Homo sapiens: one gene and its partner. The protein of the gene in region 1 interacts with the protein of each later gene in a pairwise test. Each region holds a gene or a part of one and is shown on either strand. Other genes may lie near its edges.

The links.
Region 2: the proteins of KIAA1549 (region 1) and CADPS interact in a two-hybrid assay, tested with the Homo sapiens proteins (one study listed by BioGRID and IntAct).

Annotation. Positions count from the first base shown.
Region 1 is NC_000007.14:138,864,755-138,875,240, reverse strand, and holds part of KIAA1549 (UPF0606 protein KIAA1549), read left to right. Parts: intron 1-3,878; coding exon 3,879-4,084; intron 4,085-5,479; coding exon 5,480-5,703; intron 5,704-7,112; coding exon 7,113-7,266; intron 7,267-10,486. UniProt on the Homo sapiens protein: May play a role in photoreceptor function.
Region 2 is NC_000003.12:62,753,417-62,760,416, reverse strand, and holds part of CADPS (calcium-dependent secretion activator 1), read left to right. Parts: intron 1-6,643; coding exon 6,644-6,976; intron 6,977-7,000.

The DNA of each region.
Region 1 (10,486 bases):
GCAAATATTTATGGGGGACATTGTGATATTTCCATGTATGAATATACTGTGTGATGATCAAATCAGGGTAATTAGCATATCTGTCACCACAGACAAAGTTATCATTACTTTGCCTTGGGAACATTCAAAATATGCTCTTCAAGCTAATTGAAAATATGCAATAAATTATTAGAGTTACCCTACAGTGCCTACAGGTGCTCAACCCATTCCTCCTCTCTAGCTGTGCACTTTTATTTTTATTTTTTTGAGACACGGTCTCACTCTGTTGCCCAGGCTGGGGTGCAGTGGTGCAGTCATGGCTCACTGCAGCCTTGACCTTCCAGGCACAGGTGATCATCTCTTCTCAGCCTCCCGAGTAGCTGGGCCTACAGGTGTACACCACCACGCCGGGTTATTTTTTGTAGAGATGGGGTTACGCCATGTTGCCTAGGCTGGTCTAGAACTCCTGGGCTCAAGTTACCCTCCCGCCTCAGCCTATCAAAGTGCTGGGATTACAGGCGAGAGCCACCATGTCCAGCCTCTAGTTGTGCTTTTGTATCTGTTAACCAGCTTTTGTCTATGTCCCTCCTCTTCCCTTCCCAGCCTCAAGTAACCTCTAGTCTACTCTCCACTTCTAGATCAACTTTCCAGCTTCCACATATGAGTGAGAACAGTGCAGTGTTTATCCTTCTGTGCCTGGCCTATTTTACTTAATGTCATCCAAGCTCAGCCATATTGCTGCAAATGGCAGGATTTCCTTCTTTCTTGTGGCTAAATGATGATGTTTTGATATGTGTATGCATTGTGAAATGGCTAAATCAAGCTATTTAACATATACATTACCTCACATACTTATTTTTTGTGATAACACTTAAAATCTACTCTCTTACCTGTTTTCAAGTATACAATATATTGTTATTGATTATAGTTACCATGAGGTACAATAGGTATCTTGACTCTATAGTAAAATTTATATCATTACTTTTAAAAAATAATTGAAGAGAAAGGGGTTTTAATCCCAAGTTCCTACTAGCCTTAAGGCAGGATTCACACAGCATTAATCTCTGTGTGTCCATTGTGCTTTGTACTAATCATTATTACCCAGGGAGCTTTTTTAGAAAAATTGTGCAATGCATAGCAAACAATAATATATATTATATAATTATATTTATTAATATATGATATAGAAGTATGTAATATATAATTACTAATAGTAATATATTACTAATTACTAATTATATATTACATATACAGTTCTATAAACAAAAATATATACTAATATATAATATGTGTGATATAATTATATAATATATATGTGTGATATATATTATATGTATATGTAAAAAAATTTAAAGCCCCTCTTTTCAGCCATGTTGAAGGACTGGCTTCTGGGCAGTATGGAAGCTGGAAGATTTTCTGCACCTCTTATTTCCTCTCCTCCGCTTGGTCCCTCAGCTCTGTAGAGTGGCCCAGGGTTTGTGCATCCCCTCCTCTGGTTGCAGTCTGTGAACAGTTCAGCGAGGGTGAAGCAAGGGCCGTGACTACAGTGGGAGGGGGTGAGCCGGGCTCTGGACAGGAGCCCAGTCTTAGGCTGCTGCTCCAGTGGTACCCAGGCAGGGCTGACAGCCCAGTAGGGAGGGGCCTTTTTTTTTTTTTTTTTTTAATGCCTGTCACCTTTGTCTCCCAGCAACCCAGAAGTCTCTGCCACCCTGGAGGAAAGTGATCCCACTTCTAGGTATCAGTAGCTTAATGGGCTACCCTCTGTGACATTTATTGTTACTCTATAAGTCTGGGTTAAGCAGGGCTAGCCTGTCTGGAGAAGCTCATGATCTCCTTTTAGGCATTATGCCTGCAACTTGAGTAGCTGCCACCGATGAATGGTGGTGCCTGGCTGTGCTTCCATTGCACAAATGCACAAATAGTCAGGTTCCTTCTAGGTATGGGGCCAAGAAAGAAAGCTTGAGCATAGCTGGAGTCCAGACAATGGTGTCCTCTGGCTCAGACAGACATCATTCATTCAGAATCAGCCAAATGACTTCTGATTGCTTGGGATAATGAATGTAATTCAAATTGAGAGAAAATACAGATTTACATAGCAATGCTGTGCTTTCCTTATATGAAACATCAACTACTGCTTCTTACTGCTTTGCTCATCTATGTTTTTTACACCGAGGAGAGACCTTTGTGTTTTTCACTTATGCTTTGAAGTTTCAAATGTTAGGCTTTTGTTTAGAAGCACTTTCTGCATGTGCGTATTCCCTCTGTCAGCCTGCTGGCCATTTATTTGAAAGCAACATCCAGAAGTGACTGGCTGATTAGAAGAAGGGCATCAGTTGATCTTTTTTTGGCGGGGGTTGGGGGACAGGGTCTCACTCTGTCACCCAGGCTGGAATGTAGAGACATGATCTCGGCTCACTGCACCCTCTACCTCCTGGGCTTAAGGGATCCTCCCACCTCAGCCTTCTGAGTGACTAGGACTACAGGCATGTGCCACCACGCCCAACTAATTAAAAAAAATTGTAGAGACAAGGTCTTAACTATGTTGCCCAGGCTGGTCTCAAACTCCTGGGCTCAAGCAATCCTCTTGCCTCAGCCTCTCAAAGTGCTGGGATGACAGGCATGAGCCATTGTGCCTGGCCAGTTGATCTTCTTAAGTGTGAGTAACTAGCTCTTTCTACTCAGCCCGTCTTCATTTTTCTCTTTCTCTTTTTTCAAAATTAAAGTGTATTGGGATTATCTCTACTGTAAAAATAATACTTATTACAGAAAATCCTCATTATCAAAAATAAAAGACATGGGGAAAAATCACCCATCATGTGAAGATTCAGTCTCTGTTAATATTTTTAAGTGTTTCTTTTCTGTCTTTTTTTTTGTGCATTTGAATTTCTTTTTTTTTTTTTTCACAGTTCTGATTAGTTTTTAAGAAAATTATTGTGGTTGAATATACATGGCCTAAAATTTGCCATGTAACCATTTATACATGTACTCTTCAACTGTTTTTAAAGTAGGAACTAGCGCCGGGCCCGGTGGCTCCTGCCTGTAATCCCAGCACTTTGGGAGGCCGAGGCAGGTGGATCACTTGAGGTCAGGAGTTCAAGACCAACTTGGACAATATCGTGAAACCTTGTCTCTACTAAAAGTATTAATACAAAAGTTAGCTAGGCATGGTGGCATGCTCCTGTAATTCCAGCTACTCAGGAGGCTGAGGCAGGAGAATCACTATCCAGCCTAGGCGAGAGAGTGAGACTCCGTCTCAAAAAAATAAAAAATAAATTAAAAAAATAAATAAAGTAGGAACTAATTCCCTGCAAGCAACAGGTTTTTTCTTCTCATGTGTCTTCAACTTCGTTTTCTTTCCACATCAGAACTGAAAAGTCAGAAGTGTGGTCACTGTTAACTGGTACCTGCCTGCACGTACTGGTCTTCTGTTTTCTCTGTAGTACGACATTGCCTTGGCAGCTGAATTTGTATCACTCCAGCGAGCTCCCTGCCAGATGGTAGCAATAGTTCAGAGCCGCTATAAATGTGTTTTCTGAGAGTTCTGTGAATGGCTTATTGACTACTGAGCAACTTCAGGCTCCTTCTGTCCTATATTCTTTCTGAATGAAGATTTTGAACCACAGACAAAACAGTGCAGTTTTTCACACAGTATCATAATGATTTCCTCACGTCTCTTCTTAGGGTACTTGTAATTTTTAATGAAGTTAGAGGATACAGTATATAGCCCAGACTATTTAAGCTCAGAGAGTGAAATTGTAAACACTCTGCTACTGCAGTGGGGATGTATTTTTGGTCAGAGGCCCATCCAAAGATTCTTTAAAGAATAATTCACAATTTTGATTAGTTGCTGTTTCTTTAGATGACTTCGTGTATGTGTTTTGCTTTTCCTTCTGTTCCAGGGCCACCACTGCCCAGTTCGGGAAATGAGCAGCACTCATCAGCCTCCATCTTCGAGCACGTGGACAGGATCTCCCGCCCCCCGGAGGCTAGCCGGCGGGTCCCCAGTAAGATCCAGCTTATCGCCATGCAGCCGATCCCGGCACCTCCCGTCCAGCGCCCCTCCCCAGCCGACCGAGTGGCGGAAAGCAATAAAATCAACAAAGAGGTATTTGCTTTTATTTAAAAGTCTGTTACTTAAAAAACTCGGCTAAGCCCGGTGGCTTATGCCTGTAATCCCAGCACTTGGGGGGGCCAAGGCAGGCAGATCGCCTGAGGTCGGGAGTTTGAGACCAGCCTGGCCAACATGGTGAAACGCCATCTCTACTAAAAATACAAAATTAGCTGGGCGTGGTGGCGGGTTCCTGTAATCCCAGCTGCTCAGGAGGCTGAGGCAGGAGAATCACTTGAACCCGGGAGGGGGAGTTTGCACTGAGCCGGGATCTCGCCACTGCACTCCAGCCTGGTTGACAGAGTGAGACTCCATCTCAAAACAAAAACAAAAACAAAAAAAACTCACACACTTATTGGGTCTGTGTTTGAAAATGAGTGCAAGGTACAGTGTCAACTAGTTACTGAAGGCATAAGCTGCTGACAAGGATTCTTAATGTAAAACATCACGCTTGTTGGAGATCAGATACTGTGCATGGACACTCTGGGGCGCATTGGCAGACATGCAGAAAAGTGTTAGTGCGGCCGACCAGGGGCTGCCCTCCTCAGAAAGAGCCACTTCAGCTTCTGATCCTCCTCACGCTTCAACGCAGTTCAGGTTTCCGTCTTTGGGGATACCACTCTGGGGGCAGGGGGTCTCATGTCAGGTAACTTGTTTTGGTGACACTAGGTAATTATCCTCTTTATATCTGTCAGTCCTATTTATTAAAGATCTCTAAAGGAGGAAAATATTCTTTTCTGGTTATCAGATGTCTCTTTAAAGTTGTCATTGGCCGATTTCCAAGGTTCGAGTGACTTTTTTTCCCTGCTTTGGGGGATGGTGACAAGACTCCAGTGCACCACACAGTGCTTGAGGGTAAAGCTCGTGGGATGGCAGGGTCTCTGCTCCTCCCTGGTCTGTGCCTGTCGCTCTCTCGGTGACTCCGTGGAGCTTACAGACAGCAAGTTAAGTGTGGGCCAGAGGAGAGGAGCATAGCAGGAAGGCGCTCCTAGAAGGCTTTGCTGGCTGGGCATGGTGGCTCACACCTGTAATCCCAGCACTTTGGGAGCTTGATGTGGGCGTATCATTTCAGGTCAGGAGTTCGAGACCAGCCTGGCCAACATAGAGAAACCCCATCTCTACTAAAAGTACAAAAAATGAACTGGGCATGATGGTGCGTGTCTGTAATCCCAGCTACTCGGCAGGCTGAGACAGGAGAATCACTTGAACCCGGGAAGTGGAGGTTGCAGCGAGCTGAGATCATGCCATTGCACTCCAGCCTGGGCAACAGAGTGAGACTCTGTCTCAAATAAATAAATAAACATAAAAATAAATAAAGACTTTGCGAAGTGTGTGTCCCAGAAGCTTCCCGGGACCTCTATGGCTGTCTTTCTCTCCCTCACCCTTCCTCAGATTCAGACCGCGCTGCGGCACAAGTCTGAGATCGAGCACCATCGCAACAAGATCCGCCTGCGCGCCAAGCGCCGCGGGCACTACGAGTTCCCGGTGGTAGACGACCTGTCCTCGGGCGACACTAAGGAGCGACACCGGGTGTACCGCAGGGCACAGATGCAGATCGACAAGATCCTGGACCCCACGGCCAGCGTGCCCTCCGTGTTCATAGAGCCCAGGAAGAGGTGGGCTGGGGCTCTGCGCTAGGCGGTGGGGCGGGCGCGCAGAGGTGCTGCGGGGGGCACAGGAGCAGGACAGGAGCCCCTCTGCTACTGCAGGGCCTGTGACAGAAGGACCCCATCCGTGTTCACGTGGAGGTCTCTGAAGACAGTTGAAGGGGCTCATGCACAGAAGGATGTGGAGGCCACTCGGAAGGCTTACCCTGGCTGAGGGTCACCTTAGTGTGGGAGGCGTTGGCTTTGTTCTCAACTCTGCCCCTCTGCCTGCCTCGGGGCATTTCCTGGGGCTTAATCTGTCTCTTCCAATTCAGCCTGTCTAAAACTGCACTCACCCTTTCCTTCCCACACTGGCTCCTTCTGTGGTGTCCTTGGCTCTTCCTCACCTCCCACTCTGTCACCTCCAATATTTTCATCTCCCGGAGCCACCCAGGCTGGCACCCAGCAGATCTTCGTTGGTTTTCTCACAGCTGCCTGCAGGGTCTGGGGTCTTACCTTCCCCTGGTCTCCCAGACTCCCGTCCCCGACATAGATGCGTTTTCCTTAAACACGGCTCTCATGTATGTCTTTCTCTACTCAAAACCTGAGGTGGCTCTTATTGCCTGCCAGGTGGGTCCTGTGCTCCCGTCGCAGGCCGGCCCTGCCCCTCCACTCCAGCTCTTTTTCACGGGTCAGCCACACGGACAGAACTGCCACCCAGGAGACGGCCTGGTAGCCCCTGAACATTCACCTGCCTGCCGTTTCTGCCCCTGGCACCTGCTTCCCACATCCTCCCTGGCTTCAGGTCCCATTCACTCTTCAAGACCTAGTTCTGGGCCAGGCGTGGTGGCTCACGCCTATAATTCCAGCACTTTGGGAGGCCAAGGCAGGCGGATCACGAGGTCAGGAGTTAGAAGTTCAACACCAGCCTGGCCAATATGGTGAAACCCCGTCTCTACTAAAGATACAAAAATTAATTGGGCGTGGTGGCAGGCGCCTGTAATCCCAGCTACTCAGGAGGCTGAGGCAGGAGAATTGTTTCAACCTGGGAAGTGGAGGTTGCAGTGAGCCGAGATCACGCCATTGCACTCCACCCTGGGCGACGGTATGAGACTACATCTCAAAAAAAGAATAATAAAATAAAAAAGACCTAGTTCTAGCCCCATGGGACTAATAGCTCCCACTGACTTCTTTTCTGAATGTCATGATTACAAATGGCTTTATATCATTCTGTGTTGCTTCATGTGGGTTAATAGGTCTGTTTAGGTATGCTCTGAGCTTCCTTAGAGCAGAGACTGTCTCGTACATGGCGTTTATATCCTATGGGGTGTTTCCAGGGGTAGCACATCCTAGGTACTCAGGGTACTTAGTGTTTAGTTGGTAAGTCAGTGGCAAAAAGGGTGATTTCCTACGAAGATAATTTCTCTTTTTCCTGGCAGCTCACGGATAAAACGTTCTCCCAAGCCTCGCCGGAAACACCAGGTCAACGGCTGTCCTGCCGACGCTGAGAAGGACCGGCTCATCACCACAGACAGCGATGGCACCTACAGGAGGCCCCCCGGCGTCCACAACTCAGCCTACATCGGATGCCCAGTGCGTGCCACCGACTCCAGTTTCTGGAACTCGGGTGGGGCGGCTCCTAGAAAGATGCGCTGAAAGGGGAGGAGAAGCAGCAGCACTGGCTGCCGCCCTGTGTGGTATCAGTGCCTGATGCCTGATGGCTGATGCACCAGGGCCCTCTAGGTCATGAAGTGGGTGGGGTGGGGTGCCACCCCTTCTGAGGGGAGACTTGAGTGCTGTCAGCCAGGGTGCTGCCGAGTGCCACCTCTGGAAACACACTCCGTGTTTTTCCTCTCTATACGTAAGCCCCGTTCTCTCAGACTTCACAGTGGGACTTTTTTCGAGGTTAACTGGAAAACAGAGAGAGAGAGAAATATCCTCAAGGTTTTTTTCCTTCTCCCTAGTCAGAGGGTTATTTGGTTTTGTTGTTTATTTTTATTATTTTTTTTTTTTGGGACAGGGTCTTACTCTGTTGCCCAGGCTGGAGTGCAGTGGTGTGATCCAGGCTCACTGTAGCCTCAGCCTCCTGGGCTCAAGTAATTTTCCCACCTCAGTCTGCTGAGTAGCTAGGACCATAGGCATATGCCACCATGCCCAGCTAATTTTAAAAATTTTTGTAGAGATGGGGTCTCAGCATGTTGCCCAGGCTGGTCTCAAACTCCTGACCTCAAGTGATCCTCCCGCCTTGGCCTCCCACAGTGCTAGGATTACAGGTATGAGGGCATGACCCTGTGATCAAGAGTCTCATACTCTACTGACTGAGCTAGCCTGGCTGGGTTTCCTAATGAGAGGAGGGATATTTAGGGTTTTATTTCCCTGTACTGTCCTTGGAGTGCTAAGAAGATAGCGTATTTGCTTATATATATTTTGCTTTTATGGGAGAAAGAGGTTAATGGAAATTAAGAAATAATGAGTGGTGGCTCAGACCTGTAATGCCAGCACTTTGGGAGGCTGAGGTGGATGGATCGCTTGAGCCCAGGTGTTGGAGACCAGCCTGGGCAATATAGCGAAACCCCGTCTCTCCAAAAAATACAGAAATTAGCCAGGCGTGGTGGTGCATGCCTGTAATCCCAGCTACTTGGGAGGCTGAGGTGGGAGAATCGCTTCAGCCCAGGAGGTCGAGGCTGCAGTGAGCTTTGATCGCACCACTGCACTCCAGCCTGGGTGACAGAGCAAAACCCTGTCTCTAAATAAATAAATAAGGGATTATTTTTTTCCAAAGTAAAAGAGGTCCAGACAGATTTGCTTGAAGTGTTAAAGGCAGTTATTGATAGCGTAAGATGCATACACACAGACTGCATTGAGTAGGGGAGAGAGAACCAGCCTCACTTAACCCATGAGAAATACAGACACAAAGATACCCGAAGACAGAGAGGGCGAGCCAGGTGCCGCTAACTCCGGCAGCACTGGGAAACACAGGGCGTCCTAAACTCCATACCAGGAGAGCCCTGCCTTGCTGCAGCAGGCCCCTTTCACCTCCTGGAGGCACTCACAGAGCCAGCCTGGTTTAGAGACACGTTAGCAAAAAGCACAGCCTTTGAGAAGGGATTTGCGATGGATGTGATCGCTTTAGATAGACCTTATGCAACCAGCCATTTCTTAGTTGAGGTTTGTATTTTTCTCCTAAATTATATAAATAACAAGCACTTAAATAGGCTAAATATAATTACACAAATGTGCAAACATTATACTGGGATGGGGCCTAAATACAACTGAATTATGATCATCTGAAAGAATGAGACTTTTCCTTAGGAACTTACGGTATTTCTAGGGTCTTAAAGACCGACCTTCTTGATCTACTCATGGGGATCAGTGCGATTTCAGAGTTAGGCTGTCTGTAAATGAAACTACTGTCTTCCTCAGTACGAGGAATTGAGTAGTTCCTGTTACTTTCTAAATGTGGTGCATGGCTGCTCTTACAGTAGGTGGTGCTCTTGTGCTGTGTTGGGTTCTGGGGGTATTTGGGCATCTGTGGGGTTTGGCTTGATCTGGGGAGGGCTCCCCAGGGTTGTCACCCGGAGCTTTTGTAAACTGTGCCAAGTGGAGACTTGCTGTGGTGTGAAACAGATAGAAGGGGCAGCATCCCTTCTTGTCCCTTCACTTCTCCAGCCAACCTGGGCTCCTCTCTCAAAGGAATTTGTGGGGAACCCTCTCAGTCCCCCTCTCTTTGATTTTTTTAAATGATTGAGTTTTGTATGGGGAGGAACCTGTCTTCTCCTGGCTGTCTTCATTTGCCTGCTTCAGTGACTCTAGATCAGCCTTCTTTTGCGGTAGCTTTGCAGCATCGTTTTCTTCCTTTTTTCCTTAGCAGAGAGTGCAGGGATTCCTCCTCCTGTGGGTGCAGAGCAGCCTCTTCCTGGAAGACACCACCCCAGAGGCTGCTTGCCTTCAGTGGCTCCTTTTTTAAAAGATTGCCCCAAAATAAAAATCTTCCTCAGATTTTGAATTCTGAAACACTTTAAAAGATAATGCCTGTCTCAGAACTCATCTTTTCTTAGGTAGTTTATCTTTTTTTCCCTCAACTTGTATTTTAGAATCAGTGGTACATGTACAGGGTTTTTTTTTTTCATCTTCAAGCCTATACTAGGGAAGTACTATGTGTTTTTGAATTACCTTGAATTTTCCACTTTCCCCTCAAAAATATCTTCTCCTTGAGCGGTGTGTTCTCCTAAGGCCAAGAGAAATATTCCTTGGTTCCTTGTAATAAGGGTGACCATTATAATTCAGGCCTTGGTAGAAATCCAGCCAGCTGCTTGTTCTTGTAAGTAACTTTTTTTTTTTGAGACACTCCAGCTCTGTTGCCCAGGCTGGAGTGCAGTGGTGCAATCACGGCTCACTGCAGCTTCAACCTCCCCAAGCTCAGGTGATCCTCCCACCTAAGCCTCCCAAGTAGCTGGGATTACAGGCACATGCCACCTTGCCTGGCTAATTTTTGTATTTTTAGTAGAGATGGGCTTTCACCTTGTTGCCTAGGCTGGTCTCAGACTCCTGGGCTCAGCGATCCTCCTGCCTTGGCCTCCCACATTTCTGGGATTATAGACATGAGCCACCAAACCTGGCCTAAATAGAGTTTTATTGCAACACAACCGCACCCATTTGTTGGCTTGATATCAATGACTGTTTTTGCTGCAAGGCAGAGTTGAGTGGTTGTGACAGACTATATGACTCATAAAACCTAAAGTCTTTACTGTCTGGCCCTTTACAGAAAAAGTTTGATGTAATTTGTCATCCAATCCAGACACTTTTGGAAGTG
Region 2 (7,000 bases), on another chromosome or scaffold:
CTCTAAATAAATTAAAAATAAAAATTGTGTCCGACAGAGGTGGGTTGAGTTCTAGTCCTGTTACACACTGACTCTGGGACCTCAGCTATGTCTGAGCCTTAGTTGCTTCATCTTTAATAGGACCTTCCTTGCCTAATTGCTCTCAAGACTAAATGAGAATATATATACCTGGACAGTTCCATTATTAATATATTAAGGTTAGAATATATTAATATATTAAGGTTAGAAATGAGCATGGTGGTATGGTGTCCATATGCTGCATAGAAATAGAAGAAGAGAGTTGAAAGTTGATAGAATCAATTCACTCCCTGGGCATGGAGGAAGGGAGGTGCAAGATGGAGCAGGGGAAAAGGGCATAGAAAAGAAAAGGGAAAGTACTTTTGCTCCTAATCTAGCACCACCTACCACAAGGTCATGGCCCAAGATCTGCTTCTGAAACTTTGCCCAGAATCCTTTACTTTTTGGTGAAGAAGATTTTTAAGATTTGAAAATACATTTTATTTTAGAAATGAAAATGCACCTTGCCTCAAAGAAGGTAAAATTTGTATTTTTCCAGGTAGAAAAGATGTGTTTCAAATGACCGTGAAAGTAAAACATGCCCACTATAAAAATAAAACAGACAATGTAGAAAAATCTCTGCATTTACATGGTTAAAAAATACTTGCAATCCCATCATCCTAGATAACCAAAATTAAACTTTGGTTTCTATCTTTCCAGGTACTTTCAATGTATCTATGCATGTCAAGATAACTATTTGGCTTGCATATTAAGGTGGGAAATTACCACAAACTATTAAGGACCCACTTCTTTTATTTAACACAGTTGTTTTCAGTCTCCTTCCTACCTTTCCAAAGGTCACACAAATGGCATACTCTCATCAGTAAACTGTCTTATTTCCTATGGTATTCTAAATCCAGAGCCATGTTCCTATCCTCCAATCCCACCTCACCCCTGCCATTGGAAGGCTCTGGTCCATTATAACCATATATCATGGACATCTTTGGATGGTAATGAAAAAATATATATCTTTTTTCATGGCTGCATGATATTCTATTTAAAAATAACAGCTAACTTGTATTACATTCTTAGCCGAATAGTAGGCAACAGGCTAACCAACTTGCAGGCATAATATCACTGAATCAGGATTCAGGGATCACCAAAATCCTACAAAGGAAGGTTGTTATAACTCCCATCTTAAAGGTGAGGAAATTAAAGCCCAGGAAGATTAAGTAACTTGCTCAGGTGGCAAAGCTAGCAAGCAACAGAGCCAGGATTTGAACCCAGGTGTTCTAATACCAGGGCCCATCCTCCTAACCATGATGTCTACCCCTTTCATTATTTATGTGCCCATTTATTAATAGCAACGAGGTGTGTGTTTCTTGCAAACCTTACTTACTCCAACATCTAGATGTTTTTCTTATTTATATTGAAAGGATATGCTTTTTCAGAACAGGAATGAATCTGCTGTGGCTTCTCAGCTTATCAGCTAGCAAATGGGAGCTAGGCCAACCTCATCTGTAATGTGAACAGTCACTAAGTACTGATGTGTTTGTATGTTTCTAAAATGACCTTGAGGTTGCTTGGCTCTGGTGATGGAGGGAAGGACTGATGGATGAGGTCGAGTTGCTGAATTGACTGTCCTTCACAATTCCATATTTATTTGTTTATCTTCCATCTCTCATTATGACCTGTCTGGAAGTTGGCAGAAAAGCAGGGAGGATTTATGGATGTGCCCAGATAGAACTGGGCTTGGGGTTAAAGTCTCTTGTGGCAGCCACTAAAAAGCAAAAACAGAAACAAACACGGATACAAAATACAGACAGAGCTCCCAGCACAATTGAGTTTGAATAGTTGTTTTAGAGACACACAGGCACATCAGTACTTAGTGTTTGTATTCATTATAGGGTGAGGCTGGCCCAGGCCCCACTTCCTCTTTGTCAGACTGAGAAGCCAAGACAGATGATGTGCCTGTAGAAATAGTTTCCTGCTGCCACCTTCTCTCCTCATGGCTGTCTTGTCTCCATTGGGCAATTCATCTTTACTGTCTCCCCAGTCTTTGGCCTCTTTCCTCCATGTTCTTATCATTCCACTCATCTCTCCTCTTTCTGGGATCTGGCAGTTGTATCTTAACACAGGACAGATAGATCCCTCCACTTTTCAAAGTCTTCTCAGTTTGATCCTCAGCAAAGAAGAAAGGCTGGATTCCTTCATTGTTTACCATGAAGGAGAGTGAGACTGATGGAGGTTAGGTGACTTGTCTTCCACTGGTAATTCAGAAGTATTTATTGAGTAGCTACTATGTACAAAGGAAGGGGCTAGTGAAGCAGATGCTATGCCCAGGATTCAGGGTTCACCTGATATGGTTTGGCTTTGTCCCCACTCAAATCTCATCTTGAATTGTAGCTCCCATAATTCCCACGTGTCATGGGGGTACCCAGTGAGAGGTAATTGAATCATGGGAGCAGGTCTTTCCCATGCTGTTCTCTTGATAGTGAATAAGTCTCAAGATATCTGATGGTTTTATAAAGGCGAGTTCCCATGCACATGCTCTCTTGCCTGCTGCCATGCCACATAAGACGTGCCTTTGCTCCTCCCTTGACTTCCACCATGATTGTGAGGCCTCCCCAGCCATGTGGAACTGTGAATCCATTAAATCTCTTTCCTTCACAAATTACCCAGTCTTGGGTATGTCTTTATTAGCTGCGTGAGAACAGACTAATACATCACTCAACCAGTTACACCAGCTGGGACCCAAGTGCCAACATCTTTATTTCTTACCCCTTGTTATCAGGCCCCATGGAAAATCTAGCCTAAGTCTCTTGTTTTAAGAGACCAATATACCGTGTGCTGGTTTCCCGTTGACCTTCTCGCCCCAATCCAGACATAGTCTCGCTCCATATTTTTCCTGCTAGAGGAGTCTGCTTTGCTCTTATAGTTCATTCACTCATTCCACAAATATTTACTGAGCACCAGCTACATGCCAGGCACTGTCTCAGGCACTAAGAAGCAGTAATAGAAACAAACAACGACTACCCTGCCTCCCTGGAACTTATAGTCTAGCTGGAGATCAGATATTTACCAAACAGTCACAAAAACAGTGGCAGATGGCAGCTGTGGAAGGGCTTTAGGAAAAAAGAATCTGGGGCTGAGAGCTTATAACTGAGGCCCATTTCGGGTTTGTGGGATACTAATGTGCATAGATGTAGAGGAGAATATAGCTTCATTGTTGATTGAATGTTTTCAAGTCACCCCTTATGTTTATTAGCACTGACAACAAAGGCTTAACCCCTTAGTGTCCCCACTGCCATCACACTCACCCGGTCTCGTACAAGCACCTCTCAACTGGCCTCCCTGCCTATTTTCTTGGCTCCCTTCATCAGTCTCTTTTCCACATTAAAGCCAAAGAATGTGAACTGGTTTGTGCCGTGTCCCAGCTTAAAACTTTCAATGGCTTTCCAATGCCCTTAAAATGAAGACCAACAACCCTAATCCCCTCCTCCTCCTGAATACCTCCTCCTTCTCAATGCCTCCCTGGACTCTCTGGCCCCTCCCTGCCCATCTTACATCTGTCACCCCCAGCCCTCATTGCCACAGCCACACTGACTCCTCCTTATTTCTTCAGGCACTTGGGGTCTTCACACGTATTGTTCCTTCTCTCTAAAATAAATTACAGCTCTCCATTCACCTATCCATCTTTCATGCATCATCTCAAAGGTGTTTTCTTTCAGGAAGGCTTTCTTGACCACATATTAGAATAGATTCCTAGCTATAGGTTCTTGTGGACCCTTGTCTTGATAGCACTTGTTCCAGATCGTAATCATATTTGCATGGCATTATTAGGATTATGTCAGTTGGACTCCATGAGAGCTAAATCTGTGTCTTCCTCACCGTTGTATTCCTGACACCTGGTACAGTGTCTTCCACCTAGAGAGTAACCAAAGAAAGGATGAATGGGTTCATGGAAAAGTTTATAATCATTACAGTTAAAAGGATAGCCCCAAACCTTATTGTTCAATTCCTTTGGTGTATGGATAAGAAATTGGAGAATCAGGCCAGGCATGGTGGCTCACGCCTGTAATCCCAACTCTTTGGGAAGCCCAGGCGGGTGTATCACTTGAGGTCAGGAATTGGAGACCAGCCTGGCCTACATGGAGAAACCCCGTCACTACTACTAAAAACATAATAATGATACAAAAATTAGCTGGGGATGGTGGCAGATGCCTGTAATCCCATCTACTTGGGAGTCTGAGGCAGGAGAATCGCTTGAACCCAGGAGGCAGAGGTTGAGTGAGCCAAGATCGCACCACTGTACTTCAGCCTGGGCAACAAAGTGAGATTCTGTCTCAAAAAAAAAAAAAAGAAAAAGAAAAAGAAATTAGAGAATCAGAGAGGGGAGATGATTTACTCAAGGTCACACAGCAAGTTAGAGGCAGACCTGGCCTGAGATCATGAGTTACAGCTCCTGCCACAATGCTCCATTGCCTTTCCAGAGACTTCCTCCACTAGCCTCAAAACACTGGTATTTGAGATCTATAATGTGTTGGTTAGATGGAGAAACCATCCCCATTAAGTGTTACAGGTTTGCAGATGAATTATTTAGCTCATTAAGGCTCATAAGGCCTGAGGATTCATTTGAAACTATTTTGTCTATAATTAATTTTCAAATTAACTCTAAGGTCTCATCTGAGTACCAGTTCCCACTCATAAGGAAGCAGGCCATGGCCTCTACCCTGTGAGGCAAACCCTCAGCCATCCTTTCTAAATTAGTTCATTAAAGTCAACAATAAACCGGAGCCTTTTTAAAAAAAAACATCTCTCCACCCCAGAAACGCTTTGTGATGAAGCATGAGGCAATGAGATGCCCCCAGGCAGTGCTGTCTCATGGCCAACAAGTGCATTTCCTGAAATCTGACAGGGGAATGAACATTTGCTCTGCCTCTTGAAGGATATTTATGCACCTTCTGAAGTGTGACCAGGACGCAGCTCAAACGTGTCAGATGCTTCCTCTCCGTGAATATGAAGCGGCGGCTTCACTGCCTTGTATTACACCCCAGAACCATGTAGCTCATGTAAGCTTCCGAATGGTGGGCAGTGGAGCAAAAATAAGACTTTCTTAATAGAAGAAGTCTTGGTCCCAGGACTCAACCAGGTAGCACCAGCAGACCAACCAGGGATTTTCCACCAGGGGGGAGAGGTTTTCATCAAGCAGGAGAACCCTGCAGGGAAGGAAGGAACCCGGGTGAAGTAAAAAGACTACCCATTGGTAGTCAGACAATTTGAGCTACCAAAAGGAAGTCCCTTCCCCTCTCTGAAGTCTCAGTTTTTCATCTACAAAATAAACTTAACCTAACACCTATATTCATTGTTAATTCACTTTTAAAGTGTCAGGTGCTGAAGACATTCTAGGACCTGAAGACATTGTGAGGAACAAGAAGGACACGTTCCTTGCCCAAGTAGAGTTTACATTTCAGGAAGGAAGAGAGAAAATTAAATATATGTTTACCTGATACTTGTATACTTTCAATTAAAAGTATCATTGAAGGGATAAAAGGAGGTACAAATAGTGGTTAATGTTTAATGCTATGTGCCTGATATCATGCCAGGCACTTTACATATAATAATAATAACAGCAACAAGTGTAACATGGGCCAGGCACTATTTTATGTGTGTTTTACACATTAACACATTTAATCCTCATTTTAAAATACATACTGGCCTAGGCAACACAGCAAGACCCTGTCTCTACAAAAAGTTTAAAAAATTATCGAGGCATATTGGCACACACCTATAGTCCCAGTTACTTGAGGGGCTGAGGCAGGAGGATGGCTTGAGCCCAGGAGTTTGAGGCTGCAGTGCATCGTGATCACTACTGAAGTCTGGCTTACATAACAGAGCAAAGTCCTGCCTCTATTTAAAATAAAAAATTAAATTCTGGGTGCATTGACTCATGCCTGTAATCCCAGCACTTTTGGAGGCCGAGGTGGATGGGTTGCTTGAGCCCAAGAGTTTGAGACCAGCCTGGGCAACATGGTGAAACCCTGTATGTACCAAAAATACAAAATAAATAAATAAATAAATAAATAGCCAGGTGTGGTGGCATGCACTTAGTCCCAGCTACTCAGGAGGCTGAAGCTGGAGGTCGCTTGAGCCTGGGAGGTGGAGGTTACAGTGAGCTGTGATTGTCACTATAGTCCAGCCTAGGTGACAGAGCAAGACTATCTCAAAAAGAAATTAAACATTAAATAAATACTATTATCCCCATTTTATAAATGGAAACACTGAGGTACAAAGAGGTTAACTTGCCCAAAGTCCCACAGCCACTAAGGGGCAGAGAACCTATGCAGCCCGGGCACAGGTCTGTATACCATGTGCTGCCTCTCATGATAGTATCATCTCATTTAATCCTTGCACCAACCTGGTAAGTACAATTGTTATTCTCATCTTACAGATGTGGACACAGAAGCAGAATGTGTAAGAGACTACTCTGAGTTTGCACAGCCAGGAGGTGGTGGGGCAGGGTGAGACCCACAGTGGTTCCTCCTGGGATGCACGTGAGGTGGACTGGCCCAGTGTCCAGCCCCAGGGAACTGGTACCTCTGTGGTAAACTCTCCTACTGTCTTTCCTGGCCTTGTTCTTGCTCAGGTGTTCCTGAAGAGCGACCGTGTGGCCCGCATGGTTCAGAGTGGAGGCTGTTCCGCCAACGACTCCCGGGAGGTCTTCAAGAAGCACATTGAGAAGAGAGTGCGCAGCCTGCCTGAGATTGACGGCCTCAGCAAGGAGACTGTGCTGAGCTCCTGGATGGCCAAATTTGATGCCATCTACCGTGGAGAAGAGGACCCGCGGAAGCAGCAGGCCCGGATGACAGCCAGCGCAGCCTCCGAGCTGATTCTGAGCAAGGAGCAACTCTATGAGATGTTCCAGAACATTCTTGGGATCAAGAAGTTCGAACATCAGCTCCTTTACAATGCCTGCCAGGTAAGGTGTTTCTCGCCTGGGCCT